Linked DNA regions of Homo sapiens. The protein of the gene in region 3 interacts with the protein of the main gene of each other region in a pairwise test. Each region holds a gene or a part of one and is shown on either strand. Other genes may lie near its edges.

What was found.
Region 1: the proteins of TSPAN7 (region 3) and HTR4 interact in a two-hybrid assay, tested with the Homo sapiens proteins (one large-scale study listed by BioGRID and IntAct).
Region 2: the proteins of TSPAN7 (region 3) and BTG3 interact in a two-hybrid assay, tested with the Homo sapiens proteins (one large-scale study listed by BioGRID and IntAct).
Region 4: the proteins of TSPAN7 (region 3) and CCR9 interact in a two-hybrid assay, tested with the Homo sapiens proteins (one large-scale study listed by BioGRID and IntAct).
Region 5: the proteins of TSPAN7 (region 3) and CHRM2 interact in a two-hybrid assay, tested with the Homo sapiens proteins (one large-scale study listed by BioGRID and IntAct).
Region 6: the proteins of TSPAN7 (region 3) and CHRM4 interact in a two-hybrid assay, tested with the Homo sapiens proteins (one large-scale study listed by BioGRID and IntAct).
Region 7: the proteins of TSPAN7 (region 3) and GPR35 interact in a two-hybrid assay, tested with the Homo sapiens proteins (one large-scale study listed by BioGRID and IntAct).

What each region holds. Positions count from the first base shown.
Region 1 is NC_000005.10:148,644,528-148,648,027, forward strand, and holds part of HTR4 (5-hydroxytryptamine receptor 4), read right to left. Parts: intron 1-3,500. UniProt on the Homo sapiens protein: G-protein coupled receptor for 5-hydroxytryptamine (serotonin), a biogenic hormone that functions as a neurotransmitter, a hormone and a mitogen.
Region 2 is NC_000021.9:17,595,902-17,599,401, reverse strand, and holds part of BTG3 (protein BTG3), read left to right. Parts: intron 1-577; coding exon 578-785; intron 786-3,500. UniProt on the Homo sapiens protein: Overexpression impairs serum-induced cell cycle progression from the G0/G1 to S phase.
Region 3 is NC_000023.11:38,673,042-38,676,541, forward strand, and holds part of TSPAN7 (tetraspanin-7), read left to right. Parts: intron 1-1,179; coding exon 1,180-1,275; intron 1,276-2,663; coding exon 2,664-2,819; intron 2,820-3,500. UniProt on the Homo sapiens protein: May be involved in cell proliferation and cell motility.
Region 4 is NC_000003.12:45,893,043-45,896,542, reverse strand, and holds part of CCR9 (C-C chemokine receptor type 9), read right to left. Parts: intron 2,327-3,500; exon of another isoform or gene 2,242-2,326; intron 1,638-2,241; 5' UTR 1,610-1,637; coding exon 1,589-1,609; intron 1-1,588.
Region 5 is NC_000007.14:136,867,417-136,871,451, reverse strand, and holds the start of CHRM2 (muscarinic acetylcholine receptor M2), read right to left. Parts: upstream 2,801-4,035; 5' UTR 2,460-2,800; intron 2,368-2,459; exon of another isoform or gene 2,279-2,367; intron 2,207-2,278; exon of another isoform or gene 2,192-2,206; 5' UTR 2,034-2,191; intron 1-2,033. UniProt on the Homo sapiens protein: The muscarinic acetylcholine receptor mediates various cellular responses, including inhibition of adenylate cyclase, breakdown of phosphoinositides and modulation of potassium channels through the action of G proteins.
Region 6 is NC_000011.10:46,388,977-46,393,116, forward strand, and holds the start of CHRM4 (muscarinic acetylcholine receptor M4), read right to left. Parts: upstream 2,801-4,140; 5' UTR 2,555-2,800; intron 1-2,554. UniProt on the Homo sapiens protein: The muscarinic acetylcholine receptor mediates various cellular responses, including inhibition of adenylate cyclase, breakdown of phosphoinositides and modulation of potassium channels through the action of G proteins.
Region 7 is NC_000002.12:240,624,315-240,628,279, reverse strand, and holds the start of GPR35 (G-protein coupled receptor 35), read right to left. Parts: upstream 2,801-3,965; 5' UTR 2,712-2,800; intron 1-2,711. UniProt on the Homo sapiens protein: G-protein coupled receptor that binds to several ligands including the tryptophan metabolite kynurenic acid (KYNA), lysophosphatidic acid (LPA) or 5-hydroxyindoleacetic acid (5-HIAA) with high affinity, leading to rapid and transient activation of numerous intracellular signaling pathways.

The DNA.
Region 1 (3,500 bases), on a different chromosome or scaffold from region 3:
AATTTGGCAGGTGCCAGTACACTGATAGGGGAATAATAATATAAAAAATGGAATAAGACACAGTCAATAAGATGTGTGTTATTAAGACACTGAAGCTTAATCTCACAGGGAAGCTTTGGGAAATGGTGTAAAACATATGCCTCAGAATTCTTCCAGACAAGGGGATAGGAAGGTGGGATGTGGATACTCCCGCACCCACAATTTGTTGGTTAGAGCTATCCACAGTGGAACTTGGATTCTCAGGCACCCCCAATTTATTGTGCTTGTGTGCAAAGGGGATTCCAGTAGACTGAGAGCAGCCCTCCAAAAATGTTTCAGGTCCATCATTGGAAGTCTGATGGCTTACAGAGAAATGGTCAGGGGATCTGCAGGGAAATGAAGCAACACCAACATTGTCTGTTCCAGCTATTTAGCTGAAATCTAATATGAATACACTGTTCTTGGTATATTGTATTTGTTTTTACAGTTTTCTTCTATTTCTTGCAATTGGTACTGGTTTTCGCTTTCATTTTTGTTTCTTTATAAAATAAATTTATTTAAGGAAAATTAATTGATCTAAAGAAAAATGTCACACAGTTAATGTTCCAGATGGTATGAAAAGGTGGCAAGAATCATGAAGGAGTAGAATTCAAATGGCTGAAGTTTGAGAAATGCAGGCATAATGGTTCAAGTGGGAGGTGGCACTTTTTTCTGTAAATGGCTATTTACCAAATATTTTAGGCTTTCAAGAGCATAAGGTCACTGTCACAACTACTCAACTCTGCTGTGTAGTATGAAAACAGCCATTAACAATACATAAATGATGGACATGGCTGTGTTCCAATAAAACTAAATACATGGACATAGAAATTTGAATTTTATGTAATTTACACTTGTCACAAAATATTATTCTCCTTTTGATTTTCTTGAACAATTAAAAAATGTAAACATCTTTTTTTTTGCTTGCAAGCCACACAAAAACAGGCAGTGGGCCAGATAGTTTGCCAACCCCTGATTCAAACCACAACCCTGGAATCTGTCCTAGTTCTATTAACTACCAATATGACCTTGGGCAAATTACTTGACTTCTCTTAGCCTCAGCAGCCTCATCTGTATAATGGAGATAAACATACCAAAAACCTCACAAGGTTGATGCAAAATTTAAAAATAGAAAATGAATACTCACAAAGCAGGTGCTCAATGAGTTCACAGTATGACATTAACCAGCTGTTGTAATAAGGTGGATTCCAGCTTTCCTGTGCCCCAATCATTGCAGGGTAGATATTTCCTACTCTGCTTCTTCACAAAGGCAGCTGTGTACCTAGTGGCCCATCTCCCCTACTTTGGGATGTGGCTACAGAAATTATTCCTCTTCTCTATAGGATAAGCCTCTGAAGACTGAGCCTGAAAATGCCCAAAGGTTCTTGTCATTACTGATTTCAGAGGTCTGGAATTGGGAGCAGGTCAAATCAAAATTTGCATTTCAGCTAAATTAACTCTTTACAACTAGTATTTTGAATCTTACAGAATTATGCTGTTGACAGCAGTGGTTCTCAAACATTAGTATATCTAAAAATCACATGGAAAACTGTAGATTCAGGCACTGCCACATTCAAAGCATTTTTGAATCATAAATGCCCCAGTGATTCTGATGAAAATGATTCCTGGAGAGCAGTTCAGGAGACACTGGAAGGATGGAGTGCAATCTGTCCAGGTGAGCATACCCTTCTGAAATCCTCTTTAATGATTTTTCTGTATCTGTTTAAATGCCTCATTGGCTGAGACACCTGGATTATAGTATTTGCTCTGCATGCCAAGAGAAAGGTTTCTGCAGGCATGTTTACCTCTGCTGTCCTCACTCTGTGCTATTTCTTCTGAACCTCCTGGATTAGGAAACCATTTATACAGAATTCTCCATTTCAGATATCATGTGCTAATGATCATATCCAATTAAACATGCCAGTGCAATCTCAAAAGACATAGGCTATTTACAGCCTCTTAGGTGAAAATTCTTAAGCAAAATCTACATTTTTCCTAGACTAATAAAATGTCACCTCCCCAAAGGCTGCTGTCTACAATCTCCTACCAAAAGTTTCTAAACCAACCCCTGGAGCAAAAAATAAAACTATACCCATAGATTTTAGAGGGGCCCATTTAACACAGAAGAAAGGGATCCTGGGGAAGAAGCAGAAGGAAAGCAATGGCACATTTTTATAACAGACCAAGAACCTAACCCTTCACGTGCATTACTTCATTCACCTTCACATCACGCTATCAGGAGGTTCTGCAATTATTCTCATTTCACAGATGAAGAAACTGAGGCATAGGAAAGAGGAGCTGCCCAAAGCAATTCCAGACCAGAGTCTAGAGTTTTAACTACTAAGTTATCCCACAAACAACAACAACAACAAAAAACCCAGATCTCAATGATCCCCTATCTCAGCTCTCCCAGCTTAATTTACTATTACTTATTTAGCTTCTCAAAGCTTCCAGAATGTCTACCAGCACTTGAAAGACAATATGTTTTTAACTAAGGCTCAATTTTGCTCTTGGCATCATGTGACTTTGAGCTCCTCCCTTTGCCCCAGGTTTATCGCTGTTCAGTGTGGTTAAGACATCCAGCCCACCTGTCTTATAGACCTGCTACCACTCATGAAGTTCAAATAAGATAACTTATGTGAAAGTCCTCTGAACAATGCAAAAAGTTATCCAAAATGGTAATTTCTCAGTCTGTCATTTTCATAAATTATTTTGAAATGTTGAGAAGGAAGAAAGAGTGCATTCATTTTATGAAATCATCTGTGTCAAAAATCAGATTTTCCAGAGATCTAAGGTAGATTGTAAAATACCAAAACTGCCGATCTTTGGGGGAGCAAAGAAACTCTACTACTTGGAAGGTGGACTATTTTTTGTGGCTCAATGTAATGGAAATTACCAGAGCTTGAGAATCAGATGACCTGGGCACTGGACATTGCCCTGCCACTACCTGAACTTTAGTGAGTCTTTCCCTCTCCCCTTACAGGGGAGACAAAGCTGCTTAGTGGTTAATAAGGTGGTTAGGGCCGGGGGTGGTGGCTCACGCCTGTAATCCCAGCACTTTGGGAGGCCGAGACTGGCAGATCACCTGAGCTCGGGAGTTCGAGACCAGCCTGGCCAACACGGTGAAATCCTGTCTCTACTAAAAGTACAAAAATTAGCTGGGCGTGGTGTTGCATGCCTGTAGTCCCAGCTACTCGGGCGGCTGAAGCAGAAGAATCGCTTGAACCCCGGAGGCGAAGGTTTCAGTGAGCTGAGATTGCACCACTGCACTCCAGCCTCGCTGACAGAGCGAGACTCCATCTCAGAAACAAAACAAAACAAAAGAAGAAGGTGGTTTGGGGATTCAGACTGCCAGTGTTAAGTCCCAGCCCAATTACCACCTCATGAGTGACCTTGGACTGGTCAGGTCACCTGTCTTGGTTTGTTTCCTCAGCATAAAAATAAGAATAAGAAACAACAACTTTGCAATTGTCCAAAGAATG
Region 2 (3,500 bases), on a different chromosome or scaffold from region 3:
TTGGGACCAGCCTCAGCAACATGGTGAAACCCTGTCTCTAAAAATGTATATAAATTAGCTGAGCATGGTGGTACACTCCTGTAGTCCCAGCCTCTTGGGAGGTTTGAAGTTGGAGGATCGATCACCTGAGCCCAGGAGGTAGAGTCTGCAGTGAGTTGTGATTGTGCCACTGCACTCCAGCCTGGGCAACAGAGTGAAACCCATCTCAAAAAAATAAAAATACATCAGAATGTTTTATTGTACAACCAATTTCATTGGTACATACAAAAATGTAATCAAAACAATGGACTTTTTTTGATGTTTTAAACAATTTTTTTTTTAGGAATTAGTAGAAAGAAAATAAGGGAAAGAAAATGGGGTTATGTTTATGAATACTTAAATAGACCAGAAGTAGAAAACTGTGGTTTGCTTGCTGGCATTGAGCTGTATTAGGATATTAAATGTGTAGGGTCAAGTTCTGTGATGATTCAATCTTTGCCTTGTATTGATGGCATGTCCAGATCTCTTTGTTTTTATGGACATTTTTTGCTTTGCTGATGTGACTTCAAGATTTGTAAGTTTTTAATTTTATTCTTAGGTATGGAGAGAAAAACAATGCATTCATTGTTGCCAGCTTTGAAAATAAAGATGAGAACAAGGATGAGATCTCCAGGAAAGTTACCAGGGCCCTTGATAAGGTTACCTCTGATTATCATTCAGGATCCTCTTCTTCAGATGAAGAAACAAGTAAGGAAATGGAAGTGAAACCCAGTTCGGTGACTGCAGCCGCAAGTCCTGTGTACCAGGTAACCATGAAAACAGCTCAGTTTTAAAGGGATGTGCAGGGATTGCCAGGACCTTTCAGGTAGTCCTACTTGGCATTGCCCAAGGTTTCTGACTTGAGATTCTGGATAATAGTTCTTGCCTTTCCCCATGCTAAGGGAAAGCTGTTTCTCTGGCACGTAAATAGGCATCCTGAGTCATTTTATCAAAGGTCAGCTTCACTATACAATAACTAGGATAAATATATTTCAGAAAAATTGGCAAAAAGTAGAAAATTCATGATGGTAAAACATTCCTGATATTTTAAAATCTCATTCAAAAGTTACCACTTATTTTTTGTAGTATGTAACACTTTGTTTTGTACCTTTGGGTTTAACTTTCTATTCTCTCCCGTTCCATGATTAAAGAGAAACCTCTCTAAATTTATTATATTATAATTAATATTTTACTCAAGCTGAAACATTGTCTCCCTTTTTGCTTTACTAGTTGAAAAGTCATATAGCTAGTGTGCCTGCACTTACAGATCCATTCACTGATTTACTATTTATATCTACATACCAAAGAACATTTAATCGACTTTAAAAAATTGTTGACCAAACAGCATTCTTCAACAGGAAAGATATTTTAAAGTCATAACAATTTAAAGAGATTTTTTGAGTTGAGCCTTATTCTGTAAATGTACTTATTACTAATTTTTAAAGGTTATCTATTTTTACTTACTTGCTTTGATTAAATGTGAAACATACCAGGTTTGTGGTAAGGTTGAGCTGAAAATGAAAATTTAGACCTAATGAGTAAGAAGCAGAATATTGGAGCTTTTAGTATGATAAACTAAACTTTTAAATTCAGCATACATTTACATAATGAACATTATTTCAGTGTAACTTAATTTTTGGTTTTCTCATTTTTTTCTCAGTTGAATTATTCTTCCTAGACTTTAGGGGAAGATTATTTCTGAAGATTATCATAATTTAGGATTCTATGTATATGTGTATGTATATGTATATGTATATAACATGTACCTGGCTTTATGAAACTTCAAACAGTACAAGACAGTATAATAGTGAGAAGTCCTCTTTCTCCCCAACCACCAGTCCCTATGCATTTCCACAGAGACATTCATTACCAGGTTTTTTTTTCTTTTTTTTAGTATCCTTCCAGAGACATTCCCTATATAAATAAGTAAACATAGTATTTGTACTTCAGGATCATTTTTAAAAACCTTGCCATAAATATTTGAGGCATTTTTTTTCTCTGTGTGATGGATTATATATTGCAAATTAGGTATATTGAATTTTCTGGAATTCATCCAAATGTGTGGCAATTTTACCTCAGAATTTTATTTGTTGTTAAGCAAGAATGTAAGTCTCAAATTAAATTGATTGCTGCTAATTTTTTACAAGCAAATTAACCTTTAATTTTTAGGATTTCTTTTAAAATTAAATTGCATTTATTTTCCCTCATGTTGAAAGACTATTAGGATAACAGAAAGGTATGGAAATTGAGGTGTCTCTTACGTGCTTTTTAAGGAAAACATTTCTCCTTGGCCTAATACTCATTAGCAAAACATTTTATAATAGAGAAACACTACTTGTGTGAAAGCTAGTGCAAATGGCCCACTTTGATTTTCTTCTTTCTAGTATCTTGAATCTGGCATTGCCACAAGCTTTAAAAAAGTTTTATCAAATAAGGACAACAAAATTTCTAGCTTGGAATTTTTGTTCTCTACTGTTTTCTAAAAGGTATCCCAAGAGAGGGGATAAAGAATTATTCATATCTTAAAAAACGAAGAAATGAAGATTGTGTCAGTTCTCCTGAAATAGATCTGTAGATCCAATTCAGTATCAATGAACATCTTAAAAGGTTTTTTTCTGGAAAGTGACAAATTGATTCAAAATTTTAAAAAAGGAGGATCAGTTGGAGGGCTCACACTAATTCAAAGCTATTATATATTCATCAAGACAGTGTGGTAATGGTTTAAAAACATACAAATATATTGATGGCACAGGATAGAGAGTCCAGAAGTAGACCCACATACATACAGTTAGTCTTTTTTCTCCCTTTTAACAAAAGTGCCAAAGCAATTCAATGGGGAAAGTCTTCAAGAACTTGTGCTGAAACAACTGGATGATCTGTGTAGGAAAAAAAACGAACCTAACTTAGCTGACACCATACACAAAAATATTGATTTGAGATGGATTGTGTACCTAGACATAAAAGATAAATCTCTGACGCTTTTAGAAGAAAACATAGGGAAATATAATCTTTATTTTGTGACAGGCAAATATTTCCTCTAGAGGGTCACAAAAAGTAACTAATAAGGGAAAAAAATTGACAAACTGGACTTCATCAAAATTAATCATCTTTTTGTTCATCAAAGAAACCATTAAGAAAATGGGCAAACCATAGACTAGGACAAAATATTCTCATTACATATATCTGTAAAGGACTTATTTCCAGAATATACTTTTTTTAAAATCGCTCACAAATCACTAGTAAAAGGTAAATGATTCAATGAAAAATAATGGGCATATCCTGCTGTAATCTCAAAAAAAGGGCAGGAGGAGCAAAAGATGTGAATAAACACTTTACAAAAGGAGTTATGTGAATGGCCTCATTTATGATCAGAGGAATGCAGATTAAATCCATATGAAACACTAGTTCTTCCAGAACTGCACAATTTAAAAGCCTGACAGCATGAAATGTTAGCAAGGATGTGAAGCAGCTAGATTCATAAA
Region 3 (3,500 bases):
TAGCCACCTTAGCTTAGAAGCTGCATGTAACTGGTATCTCTATCTCTTGTAACTGTCCCATGGACATAGTTTACAGCATTTTAGCAAAGAATATGCCTAGTTAGGAGAGTCACCATACTTAGCCCTAAGCTTCCCACCAAGTAGTTATTGTCATTTGCTGTCCTCCCAATCTGGAGGCATTTTACCAATTGGGGGTCAGTTTTATCAATAAACTCAGTGGCCTGGTAACACATTCGACATTCCACCTTCATCAGGTTTCCAGGGAAACAGAGCTTGAAAGTTACCCCAAAGTCAAATGTGGTAACAGAAAAGGTTTTGTTAACTTTTTTTTTTTTTTTTTTTTTGAGACAGAGCCTTGCTCTGTTGCCAAGGCTGGAGTGCTGTGGCACAATCTCTGCTTACTGCAACCTCTGCCTCCTGGGTTCAAGCGATTCTCTTGACTCAGCCACCCAAGTAGCTGGGATTACTGGCGCCTGCCACCATGCCTGACTAATTTTTTTTTTGTATTTTTAGTAGAGACTGGGTTTTGCCATCTTGGCCAGGCTGGTCTTGAACTCCTGACCTCAAGTTATCTGCCCATGTCGGCCTCCCAAAGCACTGGGATTACAGGCATGAGCCACTGCACCTAGCCAACCTTTTTAAGTTCTTGTCCTTTATTATCTTTTTTTTTTAATTTGCCTCAATAAAGACAGGTAAGTGAAAGTTGGTTTTGCCTCACTCCTATGGTAAAACAGGGATCAGTTTTTGACCAAAACATCAGTCATCCTGTCCACCCAAGTGGTTTGTCTTTTATGAGCCTCCTGTGTAAGGGCAGAGAAAGTTATAGAAAGATGGGTATTAATCAATTCAAAGAAAATAAGTAGAAAGCTCATGCCTGAGGTTTGGCAGCTCACCATCACAGGCCTTTCAGAAATGGACAGGCCCCTCCAGTAGGTCATTCAGCAGGTCAGGCTTTCTCTGGATTGAGGCTGAGGGGAACAATTTTTTAAATTCCGGAGCTTAAAAACCCCCTGGTGAATTTTCTGAGCTTTTCCATCTCAGAAAATGGGGCATTGCCTCCCTGGCCTACATTTATACAGAGACTTTCAGAAGAGGCTATGTTAGGGTAGAATTTGGTAAGAATTGGAGTCAGTTTGGGCTGTGGTGGACTGCAATCACATCCCTCCTTGTCTTCCATAGATCAAGGACACCTTCCTGAGGACTTACACGGACGCTATGCAGACTTACAATGGCAATGATGAGAGGAGCCGGGCAGTGGACCATGTGCAGCGCAGCGTAAGTTCCAGAGGAGATGAGGGTGTGAACTAACTATGAAGTCTAGGCTTAGACTTATGGACTGCCTGTAGGTTGGCCCAGTAGTTGCTATTTGTTCCCGTTCTTCAACTCTTAGTCCAGTTCCATTGCCAAGAGTTGACACCCAGTCCTTGTCCAGGCTCCAGTTATTCAGGTAATTAATGTCAAGGAGGACCACTCCCTTGAGTGTGCCTTGTATCAGTAAGGGTTGCAAGTATGGCAAGGACAGCTCATTTGCTCTTCAGATCTGAACCCTTGTGAAGGAGTTAGGCAGTGAGTGTGTGACAACCTTGCTTAGAGTTGGCTCCCGGAGGCTGGCTTTCTGGAATCGATGTCTTCAGGCTGGGTGGAGAGCTCAGGCGAGCTGCATTCACTGGCTGGGGCAGTGGAGTGGGCATAGAGTGGACCTAGAAGAAACTGAGGCTCTGTTAGGTATGTGAAGGTGGTGAGCTGCCTGATGCTTTGCGGAGGATATGGGGGAAATAGAAGAGAGATTTCCTGTCTGGGTGGCAAGTGCTGGCACTCAAGCATAACTGCCCATCAGGAATCACTAAGGGGGATTTTGCTTTGGTTTTTCTTGGTTTTGTTTACTTCAGAAGAAGTCTTTTTTCTAATTTATTTTGATAAAAGTTCCAACATATACAGAAAAGTCTCAGGAATACTACAAGGAACTGTATACTCAGATTTACCAATTAATTATATTTTTGCCCCGTTTGCTTTAATATTCTCTACATTGGGGTTGGCAAACTTCTTCTGTAAAGGATCAAATAGTAAATATTTTAGGCTTTGAGGGCCATAAACTCTGTCACAACTACTCATCTCTGCCACTGTAGCACAAAAGCAGCCACAGACAGTATGTGAACACATAGTTGTGGCTGTGTCCCAGTAAAACTTTATTTACAAAAACAGGTAGCTCCTGGGCTATAGATTACCAGCTTTGGCTCTCCCTTTCTGTATGTGCATCTTTTTTTCTTAAGAACTATTTATTTACTTATTAGTAGATATCCCAGGGGAGAGTTTTTTGAAACCATATTTGCCTCAACTCACCAATCAATAGTCCTGATTTAGTGGATGAGTACATCTATATCAATAGGTGATTGTGAGTTGGACACAGACGCACTGCTTTGCTTTGTGGAGGTAATAAGAAAGCCAATGTGATATATAATTTAGAACTTCCTTCTTGGAGATCAAACAAGCATCAATATGGGTATAATTGTTATTGGAGCTTCCATTCATCTTGACTCACCAAAGCTGCACATGTTGTCTTAGGGCTTTTGCCTGTGTTTCTCTTATAAAAGTCACAAGGCAGTGATTGAGGAGACCACATTTGATCTGCCATTTTTTTATTCTTTTCCTTTCCCTGTTAATAGCTGAGCTGCTGTGGTGTGCAGAACTACACCAACTGGAGCACCAGCCCCTACTTCCTGGAGCATGGCATCCCCCCCAGCTGCTGCATGAACGAAACTGATTGTAATCCCCAGGATCTACACAATCTGACTGTGGCCGCCACCAAAGTTAACCAGAAGGTACCCGCTTTCTCCTGGCCCAGATGGGACCAGTGGTGAATGTTTGGGGGGGCTTTTTTATTTCCATGAAATTATGACAAATAGATTTGAAATAGTAGTCAAGGGAAAGAGAATCTTACTTTGTGGTTCCTTGATTGCCTGGGAGAGGCACTTGAGGCTGCTCACTTCTAAAAGAGAAAGCTGTGACTCAGATCAGCCTTGTCTTTCTCTCCCACAGCAAGGATCTACCAGGCATAGTTAGGAAGGTTTAGCAAGCAGTTCCTGTTAACCCTGATGCTTATGTCAGACAGCGAGTGTTGGCTTTCTTCTTTTGGGGTGTCCGTCTTCTGCTTAATATACCATCTAAACATGAAATTGTTTGCAGCTGGGTGTCAGTTTTTGACAGCAAGAGGGGAGTAGAGTTGACAGACAGCATCTGCTTCTGCTAGGAGGGTGGCCTTTATTTTAGGGAGTTTACTGCCATAGGAAAAGAAATCAGCAACTCTGATTCAACTCACTGTCAACCTCCCGACTCCCAAAGAAATTAGAGAGGGGAAAAAAGAGGACTAAACGAAATTTAAAAGTTAGTACATAGTGAAAATGAGGGAAATGAAGTTTTAGTAGTCAGAGAAGAGGAAAATCAATTCTGCATTCCATTTTACAGAGAATACGATGAAGACATGATATAACTGCATGTGAAGA
Region 4 (3,500 bases), on a different chromosome or scaffold from region 3:
GTCTCCTCATCTGTAAAAAGGACTCTGCCTTTACTGTGACGCTGAGGGAATGTGGGGCACCTGCATGGGTGACTGGCCCAGCACATCCTCAGAAAGGTGGCCACAGGGTGCCACGGCTACTTTCCATGGAATATGGGAGTCAGGGCCACAGGGGTCCCATCTTCTTCCCATTTAGATGGCGCCAGACTCCTCTGACAAGAGCAGGTCATTACTGAGGTGCAGTTTCCTTCTTATCTGGGGCTGCTTTGCAGAGTTGGCTATTATCCAAGATCCCAAATGATAAAAGCAAATGACTGGCAAGCTCAGAAGCAGCCCTGGCTCTGCTGCCTTCATCTACTTCTGTTTCCACAGCCTCAGGGATTGAAAGGTGAATTTAATGCAGGAGAAACTGAAGAGTCTACTTTTTGTCAGAATAATAGTTACTTCACCAGGACCAAATTAATTACTTTTTTGTTGTTATGGATATAGGTGCAATTAGGTAACTATACATATGTAATACTAATGAATCATTAGCATATCATAAATAATTTAGTTGATAAACTGTTTCAACCACCACTCTCCATAGATCATGGAAACCCACAATGTACTGTGAGGCAGTTTGTTAGCCCGCCTGCTAGGAAGTCTGGATTTCAATTATCTACATGTAAAACCCAGGCTTTCCCTTGGAGAAGAGCAAAATCAAAGCCCTTAGGTAATTTTATAAGGCATTTATGAATGTTACAAAAGCATGGGAAATTAATTTGATTCTACACTTAATTACATTCGGCTGTAAAAGAAAAAAAGATTCTCTGGATTATGATTTGACTCACTGATTTTTTTTTTTTTTTTTAAGACAGAGTCTCGCTCTGTTGCCCAGGCTGGAGTGCAATGGCGTGATCTTGGCTCACTGCAACCTCCACCTCCCAGGCTCAAGCGACTCTCGTGCCTCAGCCTCCCACGTAGCTGGGATTACATGCGCATGCCACCACACCTAGCTATTTTTGTATTTTTAGTAGAGATGGGGTTTTGCCATGTTGGGCAGGCTGGTCTTGAAATCCTGGCCTTGGCCAGGTGATCCGCCCGCCTCTGCCTCCCAAAGTGCTGGGATTACAGGCGTGAGCTACCACGCCCAGACTGACTCACTAATTTTTGCTCAGCTCTTGGTCTCTTTCAGGGGAATGTATACTGTTACGTGTTTTCATAAGGTCTACATAATGTTATGCAAGAAATACAACTAATGTGCCCACCATGGGTTTTTTAAAAGCAAATTACATGAATTCTCCCTTTGCCTCATTTGTCTGAGTTTTAGAACAGGCATATGGAACTAAGCACACCCTAGTTAAAGATGGTTAAAAATCCTTAGCTGTTTATAACACCACATTTTCCTCTGTCTCCACAACATACCCCAAAGCATAGCTGCCTCTTTGCATTTGCAAAACCCTCTGTGCTGGACAACAACCTACCCAGCAATGCGCATTGCCAGGCAGAGATCTTACCCTGGGAAACCACACAGATAAATCCTTCCCCCACAGTGGATCCTTCCCACACCCCCTAAAAAGGGAAGATGAGTGTGTGTTTTGAGGAGCCAGAGGAGCACGGCTGTACTCACTGTGAAGTCTGTGGGTGTCATGGTGGGTCAGTCAGATGCAAGCCTGCTCCTGGAAAAGGGACAAAAATCAAAAAGTGGACTGGCTTGTAAACGAATAGTAACAACCAAATGCCAAAAAGATGGAGATTAAATTTTAAATCTGCTTATTCTTCTGAAAAAAATATTCCAAGCAGGAGTTAGAGTCTATATAGTATTCTAGATTTCAGAATCATCTGAGTAGTCCACACAGAAATGAATGAACCTCTCCTTTGAAGTTATCATTCACTTCTTTGACTCTGAGGGTCACCTGATTCTAGCATTTGTTTTCTTTCTACTTAGACAATAATTAGTACATCTCCCATCCACAAATGAGGAATGGCAGGTGGGCTGTTACATTTTTCCCAGCTCATCCTTTCTACATTAGCTCCCTTTCCCTTGATTCAGCTTGTCTGTCAAGTCCTGTTTTGCTGACTGGTTCCCCTTCCCCCTGCTCTATCAGCTAAGGGACTCACCGAAGCTAACAGGACAGTGGTCGCTTTGAGAATGCCCTGGGCTCTGGACTCCCCAGGAAAAGGGCCTTTGAGTAACCAGGTGGCAAGAAGAACATGAGGGCTGGGTGGTGCCCACTGGGGTTGGGGCCCCTCCCTAAAAGACCCGGTGCCCCCAGAACCCACCTTTCTCCTCTTTACCCTGACTTCAGCAGGAAAAGGAAGTCCTAGGTTTGTGTACTGAAGAAAATGAGTTCTAGTTCCCTAATGCACAGGGCCTCGGAACTGACTGAAATAAATCTCGAGTTGTCATTTTCATGTGTTTTGAATTTCTTTAAAGCCCACCCCTACATAACCAAAGAAACAACAGCTTGACTGCCTTCGAGGACGAAGTCTGTGCCTGAGCTGGGGCATTTCCTTTTATACCCTTAGCGAGTACATTTCAAGGAAACCTGTCCAGCATCACACCCCAAGGTTCTCGAAAAAAATAGCCTCTTTCATAAATCCTATAAAGCCAACCTGTTGGCTTCCTTTCCATAACAACATCATGACCCCACCCTGCTTTTCTGAAAGTACAGTGGTTTCCAATGCATAATGTGTGGTAAAACCACTTTGGAAAACTGGCAGTTTCTTAAGACGTTATACATGCACTCACCATGTGATCCAGTCATCCCACTCCTAAGTATTCACCCAAGAAAATTGTAAGTATATGTCCCCATAAAGACTAGTATGTGAGTGTTTATTACAGCTTTACTCTGTGGTAGGCAAAAACTGCTAACAGCCTAAATGTCCATCAAGTAGTAAATGGATAAGTTAACTGTGAAATATCCGTCCAATGGAATAGGGAATGAATGACCGATTCACACAGCAACATGGACAAGTCTCCAAACAATTATGCCAAGTAGCCAGACCAAAGGGAGTTCATACTGTATGATTTCACTTGTATAAAACTCTAAATAATGCAAACTAATCTATACTGACGGAAAGCAGAATCACTGATGTCCTGGCAATAGAGAGAGAGAGAAGGGGAGGTGGCTGGGCATGGTGGCTTACGCCTATAATCCCAGCACTTTGGGAGGCCAAGGTGGGTAGATCACCTGAGGTTGGGAGTTCGAGACCAGTCTGGCCAACATGGTGAAACCCCATTTCTATAAAAATACAAAAAATTAGCCAGGTGTGGTGGTGTGCGCCTGTAGTCTCAGCTACTCAGGAGGCTGAGGCAGGAGGATCACTTGAACCTGGGAGGCAGAGGTTGCAGTGAGCCAAGATTGCACCACTGCACTCCAGCCTGGGTGACAGAGCAAGACTCCATCTCAAACAAAAAAAAAAAGAGAGAGAGAGAGAGGGAAGGGGAGTGTGGGAGGGCAGGAGGGCAGGTGGGTACAAAGGAAACCTCAGTGGGGGATAAATATGTTCACTGTCTGGGTTGTGTGAGAGCTTCGCAA
Region 5 (4,035 bases), on a different chromosome or scaffold from region 3:
GAAGCGAACAGAAGCGCTGGCGCATCCCAGCACCAGGCATCGAACTTCCCTGGGCAGCATGGAGAAAAGCTGCCGCCCGCGGGTGGGCTCCTGGCGGGGACGCCCAGCGGCGGGGCGGGGCGAGACGCGGGCGGCCTGCAGCGCTGCAGCCGCAGGAGCCCTCAGGGCTCCGCACAGCCCGGCCCGTTTTCCCCAGAGACTCCCTCCCCTCATGCCTAACCCCAATTCCAGTTTTCCTCAGGCCTTTCGGGTTGCCCCAGGGTTTCTCTCTGGAGTCTAGGCTGACTTCCCCTCTCCACCCGCAGAGCCCTGCGTGGGCCATGGCCATGACCCTGGCGGTGGCTGCAGGCGTCCCGGGCTGTGGAGCAGGGGCTGCGCGCCGGACCGCTGGAGGGTGTGTGGCACAGCGTGGGGACTGGTCGCTGTGTGCTTGTGTCGCTGGCTGCGTGTACTAGGGGATGGGCAAATCACACGGCTGCCGCATACCCACTGCCACCCAGCGCTAAGAAAAGAGCAGGAAAAGCAAAACAAACAAAAAAGAAAAGAAGACAGGGAAATAGAAAGTCGATGTGGGGGATTCCGGAGCTTGAGGAGTGGGAGGCGCCGCGCTCTTCTTGGCTCGCGGCGCCTGGGCTGGCAGACTTGGAGCCCTGGGTGGCCGCAGTCACAGACGTGCTGTGGCGGTGAACTGACTTAAAGACGCGGGAGGGCGGCCTGGGTGAAATGTCCACCGACAGTTCTGCTGGCTTTACGCGTTTACCTCCAATTCTCTGTTCTCCTCCAGCCTCTCTGCCCCTGGCGAACCTCCCTGCTGGTATTTCCGTACATGCAAGAGCCTTGGCATCATCGCCAGGGACTGGCGGGTCGGTGGACTCAGCCTGGGACAATTCTGTATCTCAGGGCAGCCTCGAGGACGGCAATGGGCAGGAAGATAGAGAAAGGGATGCGGATGCTGGAGGCGGACGGAGGCAAAGGGTGTGCCGCCGTGTGTGTCAATAATTCTGGGGAATTTTCACCTCTCCCAGATGAGTCTCTACTTACCCCGTGAGGGGCCCCAGGGGCGCCGGGCAGCGCGCACAGGTGGAATTTCTGCGCGTCTACCGGCACCAGGCATGGACCGCACCTGTCCGTGTCCGAGAGCTACAAGTTAGCGGCGATTGCCTGGGACCTCAGGTGCGGACTCCAAGGGACATTGCGGGCGGGGAGGGGTGCAGCGGTCCCCAGTCTACGACCCCGGGGACTGCCCGGGCGGTTCAGGACCCATTGTGAGTTAGGTGGCGAAGCCCAGGCACTGTCTGGTACCTCATGAGCTTCGGGCTGAGACCTTGTCCCCCAGCCACGGCGGACAGTCCAGCTCCTGCGCGGGGCTCAAATAGGATGGGATTGCAGAATGCTTCCCTCTCCTTTGTCTTGGGACCCTTTCCCCCATTCTAATTGCTTCTCCTCCTTGGCCATGACCTGGAGACCGCAATGGGAAACCTCTCCAGCGCCCAAGGGCTGCTCCGAAAGCGGAGCCGGGGGACAGCTCGGAGCCCGAGCGAGCCGGGCCTCCATCCCACACGCACAGAAGACGCGGTCAGACCCCAGCAGGAAGGAACCCGAGGGGCGGGAGGGACGAAGCTCTCCTTGTCTTGTCCATGGCTGCATCTGGAGTGGGTGGCGGGAGGGGGGTCAGCAACAGTAGAGGGAATGGGGGGCTGGAATAGGGAGCGACGCCGGGACAGCGCAGCTCCCAGGCTGCTTTCGCCACATTCGGCTGGACTCAGTGACCGTCGGAATCGTAGGGGTACCTCGCCTCGCGCTGTGCCTCGTTTGCCCCTTCCTTTCAGACCCGCCATCACTGCTCGCAACCCTCCAAGCCCCAGGATCCAAAGTTTCCGTTTGAGAATCTGCACGTGGGGAGGACCTCCCTCCAATTCCCCCAAGCCCCGACCCCTGAGCCTCCGGCTTGGGGGGATATGAAGGGAGAGACCCCCTGGTGCCAGGGCCCTTGGAGTGGGTAAGCGGAGAGCTGCACAGCGCGGGGCCCTTACCTGTCGCTGGTTTCGCTCCAGTTGCCTCCCCGGCTGCGAGGTGGTGGAGGCTTGAAGGAGCGAGGAGTCCTTTGTGGGTTCAGGGCCGATCCGCTCGGGCTGGAGCTGCGCACCGCTTAGAGTCCGAGGCCAGCTGCCGGTTCTCTTTCTCCCTTGATCTTGCAAAAGAAAAGGAAAAGATTAGTTGATGCCGAGACACTGTAGGGGTGGGGCGGGAGAGGCGGGAGAGGCGGGAGAGAACCGACCCCAAGGCTCTGGCGAGAGCTGCGGGGCTGGCGCGCGCGCAGGCAGAGTCACGCACCCCACACTCGTCTCAGCCACTTGGCTAGTCTGTGACCTGTTCGTGGTTTAGACTGGAGTTAAATTGACGCTGCCCCCGCCCTCCACGCCAAACCACTAAAGGAGAAGCAAACAAGACTTTCAAACCTGGCTTTCACGAAGAGCCTGGAGACCAAAATAGAATGGAGACCTGGATGCCTCGGCGAGCTGGGCTGGATTCATTTCTTCACCAAAGTGCTTGGGGAAGTAGGAATTAGTTTTGGGAGGCAACACCTATTCGGGTACCTCGGCGATTTCCTGGTGAAATCTGCGATTTCCAGGCTCTGGCCAACCCGCAGCCTGGAGTGTGTGAGTGTGTGTGTGTCTGTGTGTGTGTGTGTGTGTGTGTGTGTGCCCGCGCGCGCTCCCTAGGTCTTTGCGCCCTGGCGCCTTTAGTACAGCAGGAGAGCGTGTCTGTATTCGTGCGTGTGTGTTCGATTAGCTGCAATGGGCGGACAATTTCTGGAGAGAACATTTACAATTTTCTTTCAGTATGACAGGATTAGTTGCTGTTGAAGGCGCTCCTCCAATGAAATCTTCTGTGCTCTCTGATTTGGCGGTTCTTCTGAGCAAATATGACAGCCGTTTCTCCAGGCTCTTTTTCGCTTCTCTCCATTTCCATCCCCAGAGCCCAGCTCTCCATCTGCAATTTCTACATCAGAACCACCCCCAACCCCGAGTCCCTTCCCTGCAAGTGTGTGAGTGCTACAAAGGTGACATGGCATATTGGGAAGAACGCAGTATTGCTTTTTGTTTGTCGGAGATACTTAAGCCCAGTTTTTCCAGGTGGGAAAATGTTAGACTAAATCCACTATGCTTTGTAAATATATAATTGTGCTGAACTATTCACAGATTGTTTATTTCTTTGGAGCTTTGACAAATGTATCCGAAGGAGAAGTAATTTTTTTCTCTTACTTTAAATATGAGCCAGTGACCATGTTTTCTTCAGCTAATGGGCAGTAGACTACAGAATATATCTATATCTATATCTGTATCTATATCTATATTCAGAATATGTGTATATCCAGAATATATATATCTAGAATATATATATATATGTCCAGGATATATATATCCAGAATATATAGATATATATATCCAGAATATATATATATATATCCAGAATATATATATATATATCCAGAATATATATATATATCCAGAATATATATATATCCAGAATATATATATATATATATGTCCAGGATATATATATCCAGAATATATATATATATATATATATATATATATATATGTCCAGGATATATATATCCAGAATATATATATATATATCCAGAATATATATATATATATATGTCCAGGATATATATATCCAGAATATATATATATATGTCCAGGATATATATATCCAGAATATATATATGTCCAGAATATATATATATCCAGAAAATATATATATATCCAGAAAATATATATATATATCTCAAAAATATATATATATATATCTCTCTCAAAAAAAAAAATATATATATATATATATATCTCCAGAATATATATATGTTTGATGCTTCAGGGAATTTGTGATCTCCATGAAAAAAGATTTAGGATGCAAACTTTCTGTGTTCAGACCTGCCTTTGATGTTTATTTCTTTATTTTAATGAGAAATTTCTGCCAATAATTGTATCTATTATTTTTAGATACTAACCTCATTTGATAAAAGTA
Region 6 (4,140 bases), on a different chromosome or scaffold from region 3:
TAATCCTTACAACAGCCTGAAAAGGCAGGTATTATTAGTGTCCTCATCTTACAGATGTAAATATCCTCTTATAGATGAGGATAATGTTAATCAACTGGCCCAAAGTCACCAGGTTAGGAAGTACGGGTGGGGGCAGAAGAACCCGGGAAGCTCCTTCTTAAAGTCCAAGGTGCTACTGCTCAGAGTTGACCTCCTGCCTCTGCTCCCCTCGACCCGAAAACCACACAACTGAGGGACTGTCCAGGTGAGGCTTGGGTAGGGTCCCCTCACATTCCTGCTGGCTTCTCGACTTAGCTTTCCCAGAAGACAAGCGATGTCTTGTCTTCTCCCAGATCCTGGCGGCTGGGCTGAGCCGGGACCACTGGATGGCCGGTGATTAAGTCCTGCTCTTGGCCCGCGTGAGGGAGCTGCCAGGTGCTGACAGGGCGAGGCTCAGGGTCTCCCCGACTCCGCCCCGCCCCAGCTGTCGTCGTTTTGGACACCTCGGGGTCACCCGCAGACATTCCGACCCCCTCTGGCGCCTTCCCTGGAATCCAGATACGCCTGGCATCTGGGGAGCGAGCCGCCGCCGCCGGGGCTGTGCGCACCGCTAGATGGCAATGTCGGTCCCTGGTGCCCGCTCCGGACCTAGACCGTGCGGCCGCCGTTGGCCACCGCCCCCAACTCCAATGCGACTGCGAACCCAGAGGAGCCCTCAGGCACAGCCTCCCGGGGAAGTGACGCGGGGTCCCCTCGCCAGGCCCCGTCGGACGCCGCCCCAGAGCTGCCCTCGGCTCCGCGCGGGGTTCTCGGGTGGGAAAGTTGAGGGAGCCCGGATTCCACCCGGCACCCTGCGAGGAACGTGTGGGCGGGAGCGCGAGTGCGAGTTCTGTTTGTGTGTGCCTACGGGGGAGCGCGAGTAGACGCTAGTAGCTGTATGCATGTGCGTGTGTGTGCGCACGGCCACGCCTGGATACCAGTCCGCCCGTGAGAGCGCGTGAGCATGCCGCGCCGTGTGCACACGTGCATGTGCATGCGTGTGCGTGCCTAGGGTGCTGTGGCCGGGAGGATGCACACGGTTCGGGTGCCTCTACACCTGTGGACTTGCATGCACAAGCAAATGCAGGGCCGAGAGTGGGTGACCGGTCACATTCCAAACGCCCCTGCCGGAGACTCAGCCAGACCTTAGCTGTCCGCCTGAGCGCGTAGAGGGTCGGGCCAGGAGCCTGCATCGGGATTGCACCTGGCCTGTGGGTGAAGGGTTGTGCGGGCGAGGAGGCCAGACTACTAGGGGCTGCCTGCGACGGGCCACCTAACTTTGGGACGCCGTCTTAGCCCGGTGCCCAGAGGTGTCCAAGTCCTTAAAGATGTGGCAGAGTCCTAGCCTCTGACTGACATCTGTCGAGGGGCCTCTGCGAGAGTCGCCCAACCTGGCCTTGAGGGACACCAGGCACGCTCAGCTCTAATAACTCCCCTAAGAGGCGTTATTGCCAAAAGCCGCCCATTCTCGCGGCGAGAGGGCATCCGCAGTGCACCCACAAGGCGGAGGCCCGGACAGAGCTCGGGTCAGGCGAGTGCAAGACTCTTGTCCTCCTTCTCTCCTCACCCTGCACCCTACCCCAGAGGCACTGTCTAGCCCCTGTGACCAAAGTGGGGACCCAGTTTCTCACGCTAGGGTCGGGCGGGCCTCGAGGGCCGTGTTTTCCTAGGCCATCTGGAGGCTCCTCCATGTCTCCGCCGTGGTCGAAGGAGCCCTGGCTCTCGGGTGCCCCGCCCTCCCTCCAAGCCCCTAGCACGCAGTTCCTGCAGCCTCTGGGCGTGGGCACTGTGTTTCCCGAGTCCTCGACACCCCTCTTCCCCGGGCGAGACCGGAGGGGGTGCTCCGCACGCCCGTGGGGTGGTTTGGGGTGTAGGTCTTCGGTTCTTGGGCATTCACTCCATGGCTCTGGGAAGGCTGTGGCCCCTGGATCTGTCCCTGGGGCGGGAGAGGAGACTCCAGAGTCCAAGGGAGGGAGAGGCGAAGATTTGGCACCGACATTGTGCCCAACACTTCCGTTGCGGGGCCGGAGGAGGGGGCCTGGAGCTGGAGGACCCCGGCTTGGAGGCTGGGCAGCAAAGGGGGGTAGTACCGGAGCGGGGGAGGGGTGTCGGGGAGGGCAGGGGTGTTTTCCGTCGGGGCTCAAGGTCGTAGATGGAGGACTCCAGGGGCCGGAGTGGGCTGGCAGCGCGGGGGCAAAGGGGTGGAGGGAGAGGGAGGGCGGGGAGACGGCGGGAAAAGGGCTCTTTGGGGCTTCAGCGCCCGGCGCCCTGCTGAGCCGCCAGTGGGAGGGCTGGAGTACAGGGTCCCACCCCCGACGGCTGCCCCTGGCTCCGTGGGGTCTGTGGGCGGGCAATCCCCCGCCCCCGACATCCTGGATGCCCACCCCTTCCCACGGGCGCACCCGGGCGCACCTGGAGAAGCCTCCGAGAGCCCCCGGCCTTGCTTCCAGCGGGGTCCCCCAGCCCCGGCCCACTGCCGCTCCCGGCCCGCGCTCGCCCCGGAGGGGGTCTGGCGCCCTGTCCCAGTCGAACCCACCTCTGGGGAGCCTCAGAGCGTCCCGGGGACCTGCTTCCTGCTCTTCCCGGCGAGCCCCCCGCCCCCGCGCCGCCGCGGAGCCACTTACCCGCCGCCTCTGCCCAGCTCCCCTCGCGCCAGACAGACGGCGGGACGGACGCGCGGCCCCGCGGGCCGGCGGGGCGGGCGGCCGGGCCGAGGGCCGGGGGCGGGGACGGGGTGTCGAGGGGCGGCCCCTGCTCCGCCCGCAGCTCCCGGCGCTGTGGCTCCGACTCGCGCTCACGCTCGCACTTTTCCCCGAGCCGCGTGATGTCACGAGGAAGCAGCCAATCGTGGCGGGGCCGCGCCGCCCGCCCCGGGCCGGTCACCCGGCGGCGACGCGCGGGGGTCAACACCCGAGGCGTCGGAGACCCCGGCGGTCCGCGCCCCTCTCGGGGGCTGGCCGGCAGCTCCCTGCTTGGGCACAGAGGGCGCCGCCCACGGCCAGCGACGCAGGGGAGCAGGGGGCGCTGCCCTCCGGGGGGTGGGGGTGTCCGCGTTGTCATGGGGACGCGGCGCCCCCTCGCGGGCTGGGGAAGGAGCTGGCAGCTGGGTCCGGCCGCGCTCCCGCCTCCGCCCTGACCATACTCCCGGGACCCTGAGCTATTTTCGCGCCTCTCCGGGACCTCAGCGCCCTGCGTGGCCCCGCTGGCGGTTTGGCCGCGAGGCGCGGGAGTCTGACCCCAGCGGGAGGCTGCGGGTGGGTGGGGCGGGCTGCGCCGCCAGGGATCCGTCGGGGTCGAGGGCCGGGAGCTCCAGCCGCGCCGCTGCGTGCCGGCCGGGCCGCCCGCGAGGAGGGGCGCCGTCGGGGCCTGGGGAAGCGCAGGAGCGGGTGGACTGGAGAGGTTCGGCCGGGGAGAGAAGAGCCCACCGCGGACCACTCGCCCGCACCCGCTCGGCTGCCTGCTCAGCGTTCCGGGCCGGGGAAGGGGCGCGCCCCTGCTCTCCCAGCCCTGGGATGGGACGCGCCGCCAGTCCAGGCGCAGCCTGGACCGCCAGTTCACCGCCGCCTGTGAGGGACAGTCGGTTGCCCAAGGTCGCCGGGGCCGGAGCCCGGGACAAGATCCCGGAGAGCGGGCAGCCAATCTCAGAGGTCGCTGGGAACCGCACGGGCCGTAGCCTCAGGACTCCGGGCCTCGCCCAGGCTGGGCGGACCTTGGGGCGGCTTCAGCACCTCGGAGAGCTCCCCGCGCCCTGGCCCAGCAGCCTCGCCTGCCTGATTCCGCTCCAGCGCTTGTCTCCCTCCGAGAGCGCCCTTCCGGGGGACCGCCGGGGTCGGACGCTCCCCACTGCGCCCAGGACCGAGGCCTGTAACCCCAAATTCTGATCGCAAACATTTGATTAAGCTTAAGACGTCTGATTTCTTCTCTCGGGGAAACAACTCAAGACCCTCCCCCGAGGGCCGGAGGTGGTGAGGGCGATTGCGGGGGCGGCGGTGGAGGAGAGGCAGGAGCCTCTTGGCAGAGAATGGGAGGGAACTCGAGTAGAAGCCAGCGCTGCGGGGCTCTTGGTGTGGGGTTCTCCGCGCGGAACCCGGAAGTGGAGTTCGGGTCCCCAGAGCTCGCGAG
Region 7 (3,965 bases), on a different chromosome or scaffold from region 3:
GGACATCCCCAGAACCCACTGGAACCAATCGCTGGGATCTTCCCTTCCTGTTGGGCCTATACTCCTGTGGCAGCCCCCGCTGGGGGCCAGGAGATCCCAGAACCTGCTCAGAATCTACACCTCAGAGGCACCTGAGCTGGGCAGGCACTGTGCGTTGGGGAGGGCTCCGTGCGACTGGCCTCCTACTCTCCCCACCTGAGTACTTGAATCCACCAGAAGTCCAGGGCCAGCCTTGGGCGGTGTGCAGACCTGGAGGGGGAGGGGGTCTGCACAGCTAGAGGGCGATTCTTTTGCTGCCCCACCTTGAGTAGAGGCAGCCTGGGACCCTGCCTCGTGGGAGGTGAGGACCCGAGGGCTCGTGTGCCTAGACCCCTTCCCATTGCCCCAGCTTCCCCCATCGCTCCCCATGGCTGCCAAGGGGCTCTCAGGTCACACATACCCAGGGCTGCAACTTTCATACTAGCCTCGGTGTGGCCCAGTATTTTGTGGGGGAATGTTTAACTGCAGGCAGGCACGGTGGCTCATGCCTGTAATCCCAACACTTTGGGAGGCTGAGACAGGAGGATGACTTGAGGCCAGAAGTTTAAGAACAACCTGGGCATCACAGGGAGACCCCGTCTCTACAAAAAAAAAAAAAAAAAAAAAAAAAAAGACAGAAAATTAGCTGGGCTGGTGATGCGTGCTACTCGGGAGGCTGAGGCAGGAAGACGGCTTGAGCCCAGGAGGTTGAGGCTGAAGTGAGCTATGATCCCACCACTGCACTCCAGCCTTAGGAGACAGAGTGAAACCCCATCTCTAAGAAGAAGAAAAAAACTCTAACTACAACATTTAAATTTTCCTGTTTATAATAAAACAAACACTGAACTATTAGGGAGAAAAATGCAAATGTTGCAAGAGTTTCGAGGTGCACGTAGGCTTCGAAGAAGTGCCCTGTTCATGGGTCCTTGTCTCGCCCGTGGAGTGCCTCCCAGAAAAGTTCAGGAAATCAAGGCCCAGGCTTTAGCCCAGATGGCATGGGGCCCCTGGGAGCTAACATGGCCAGCACAGATGCCCACCTACTGCCCCAGTCCCGCACAGGAATCTGTGTCCAGGCCGTGGACCGTAGCTGGCCTCCCGCCTCAGCTCCTCAGGCCTGTCTTCCTCGACAGACACCAGCACCATCAGCCTCAGGGAGCTCCCGCTGCCGGGGACCGTGGGGATGGGGCCCTTCCACTTCCTGCCCAGGAGGCTTTGGGGATTGGAGCCAGCAGCACGCCTCTGAGGCCCCGCTTCCCCTTCTGATGACAAGGTCACCCTCGGCTTCTGCACACAAAAGCAGAAAAGTGCCCTTTGATTCTGCACTGAGTGATCCAGGAGAGAAACCTGGCCATAGACGGGCGATCCAGCCACACCAGAGCCCCTCCCCAGCCCTTCCCCCTGTCTGGACCCGGGACCCGCCCAGACCCCAGAGTGCCTGGCTGGCCTGGGATTGAGACCACAGGCCCCAACCACTGCTGAAGACGTGGGGGCACGCAGTGAGGTGCAGATCCCTGTGGCCCAGGCACCAGAGTCCCCCGTACCTGTGACCCCACTGGGCCTGGGCCCCACACAGCACACCACACCCCAGGACCCAGGATGGGGCTGTGAGTGACACGAGTTCACCAAAGTAGCTGCTCACCTCGGGGCCACAGCACGGGGTATTCTTCATTCTTGTTTTTAAATGTCACATCCCACACTCCAACAAGCTGCTACCCAGACACAGGCTCCAAGTCTTCATCAGCCTCAGCCACCCCTGAGACCCCAACAGCCTCAGCCCACCTGAGACCCCAACACAGCCTCACCTCACTGAGACTCCCCATCACAGCCTCACCCCACTCTGAGACCCCATCACAGCCTCACCCCACTCTGAGACCCCATCAGAGCCTCACCCCACTCTGAGACCCCGTCACAGCCTCACCCCACTCTGAGACCCCGTCACAGCCTCACCCCGCTCTGAGACCCCATCACAGCCTCACCCCGCTCTGAGACCCCCATCACAGCCTCACCCCACTCTGAGACCCCCATCACAGCCTCACCCCACTCTGAGACCCCGTCACAGCCTCACCCCGCTCTGAGACCCCATCACAGCCTCACCCCGCTCTGAGACCCCCATCACAGCCTCACCCCGCTCTGAGACCCCCATCACAGCCTCACCCCGCTCTGAGACCCCGTCACAGCCTCACCCCACTCTGAGACCCCCATCACAGCCTCACCCCACTCTGAGACCCCATCACAGCCTCACCCCACTCTGAGACCCCATCACAGCCTCACCCTGCTCTGAGAACCCATCACAGCCTCACCCTGCTCTGAGAACCCATCACAGCCTCACCCCACTCTGAGACCCCATCAGAGCCTCACCCCACTCTGAGACCCCCATCACAGCCTCACCCCACTCTGAGACACCCATCACAGCCTCACCCCACTCTGAGACACCCATCACAGCCTCACCCCACTCTGAGACCCCATCACAGCCTCACCCTGCTCTGAGACCCCCATCACAGCCTCACCCCGCTCTGAGACCCTGTCACAGCCTCACCTCGCTCTGAGAACCCCCGTCACAGCCTCACCCCACTCTGAGACCCCATCATAGCCTCACCCTGCTCTGAGACCCCATCACAGCCTCACCCCACTCTGAGACCCCCACCATGCCCCTGCCCCGCTGGGAGGCCCCTAGGGCAGTGGGCGGCACTGACCTGCAGGCAGCTTTGGCCTCCCGGGTGGAGTGTGTGACCCCCGCTGCCAAAGCCTGCACAGTGGCTGTCTGAGAAGGGCTGGGGGAAGTGAAGCTGGGGTGAGCCACCCCTCAGGGCTGGTCCCTGACTCTGCCCCTCCTTAAGGTGGGGGGGCGGGCGGCTGACTGACGGCAGCAGGTCAGGGGTAACAGGAGTTCCCCACTGCTCCTGCACCAGCCCCAGCTAGAGGGCGTGGGGGATTTCTGGGAGGGAAGTGGGGTGCCGGCTGCCTGTGCTGACACCTCTGAAGAGCCAGCATCCTTGCTGAGGGCACACATTTGTTCTGGAAACAGCGTGAGAGACAGACAGCAAAACCAGAGACGCTCCAGCCCCGCCCACGGAGCCTTCCTCCTCCCCAGCCCACTTCTGCCCTGTCATCTCGGAAACCTTCCCAGGGCCCAGCCCTCCCAGGGTCTGCGGTCAGCTCGCCCTCCCCAGCGCCTCATGCCCAGCCCCAAGACAGGGTGCAGCACGCACACTCATCCTGGTTCATGCAGACACGCTCCGTGGGCGCCTTCCAATACACACACACACGCTGGCACACATGCACACACACATGCACACGCCAATGCACACAGGTGAGAGGCACACGCAGGCAGGCTGGCTCCTCCCCTGCTTCCCCCCGACTTGGCCACCGGCCCCTCCTCCAAGCCCACCCCCTCAGAAGCCTACCCAGACCACCCCTATCTGGTCTAGAATATTCTCCCTGGCCCCCAACTCCTCAGCGGACATCTTCCTTCTGAGCTCATGGTGGGGGAGCCCGTAGGCCCAGGCTGCGCCCCCATGGTGCAGAGCACCCCCTTCCTGGGCCCTGTCCACCCTGAGGGCAGGAGCCTCGTCTCCTCAACGTGGGCCCCACAGCCCCTGACCACAGCCTCTCCCTCCTCAACGGCTGGGATAGGCTGGGGAGAGCTTCAGTTTCACCCCTCCCCACTTTACAGCGGTGGAAACGGACGCCCAGGGAAGGGAAGCGCTTGGCCCAGCGTCACACAGGTGGTGGCAGGTCTGAGACCAGTGCCTGGGCCTCCTGAGCCAGACCAGGGCTCTCTACCCAGAGGCACGTGAGGAAGCCCTGGCTGGGCATTGGTCCTTCTCTGCTGTCATCCCGGGCCTGGTTCCTGTCCCTTTCTTCCTGCTTCCTCCTGCTGTCCTTCCTGCCCTTCCTCCTGCTTCCCCGGCTGTCCCTCCAGGCCCAGTCCCCAGTGTGCGCCCTTG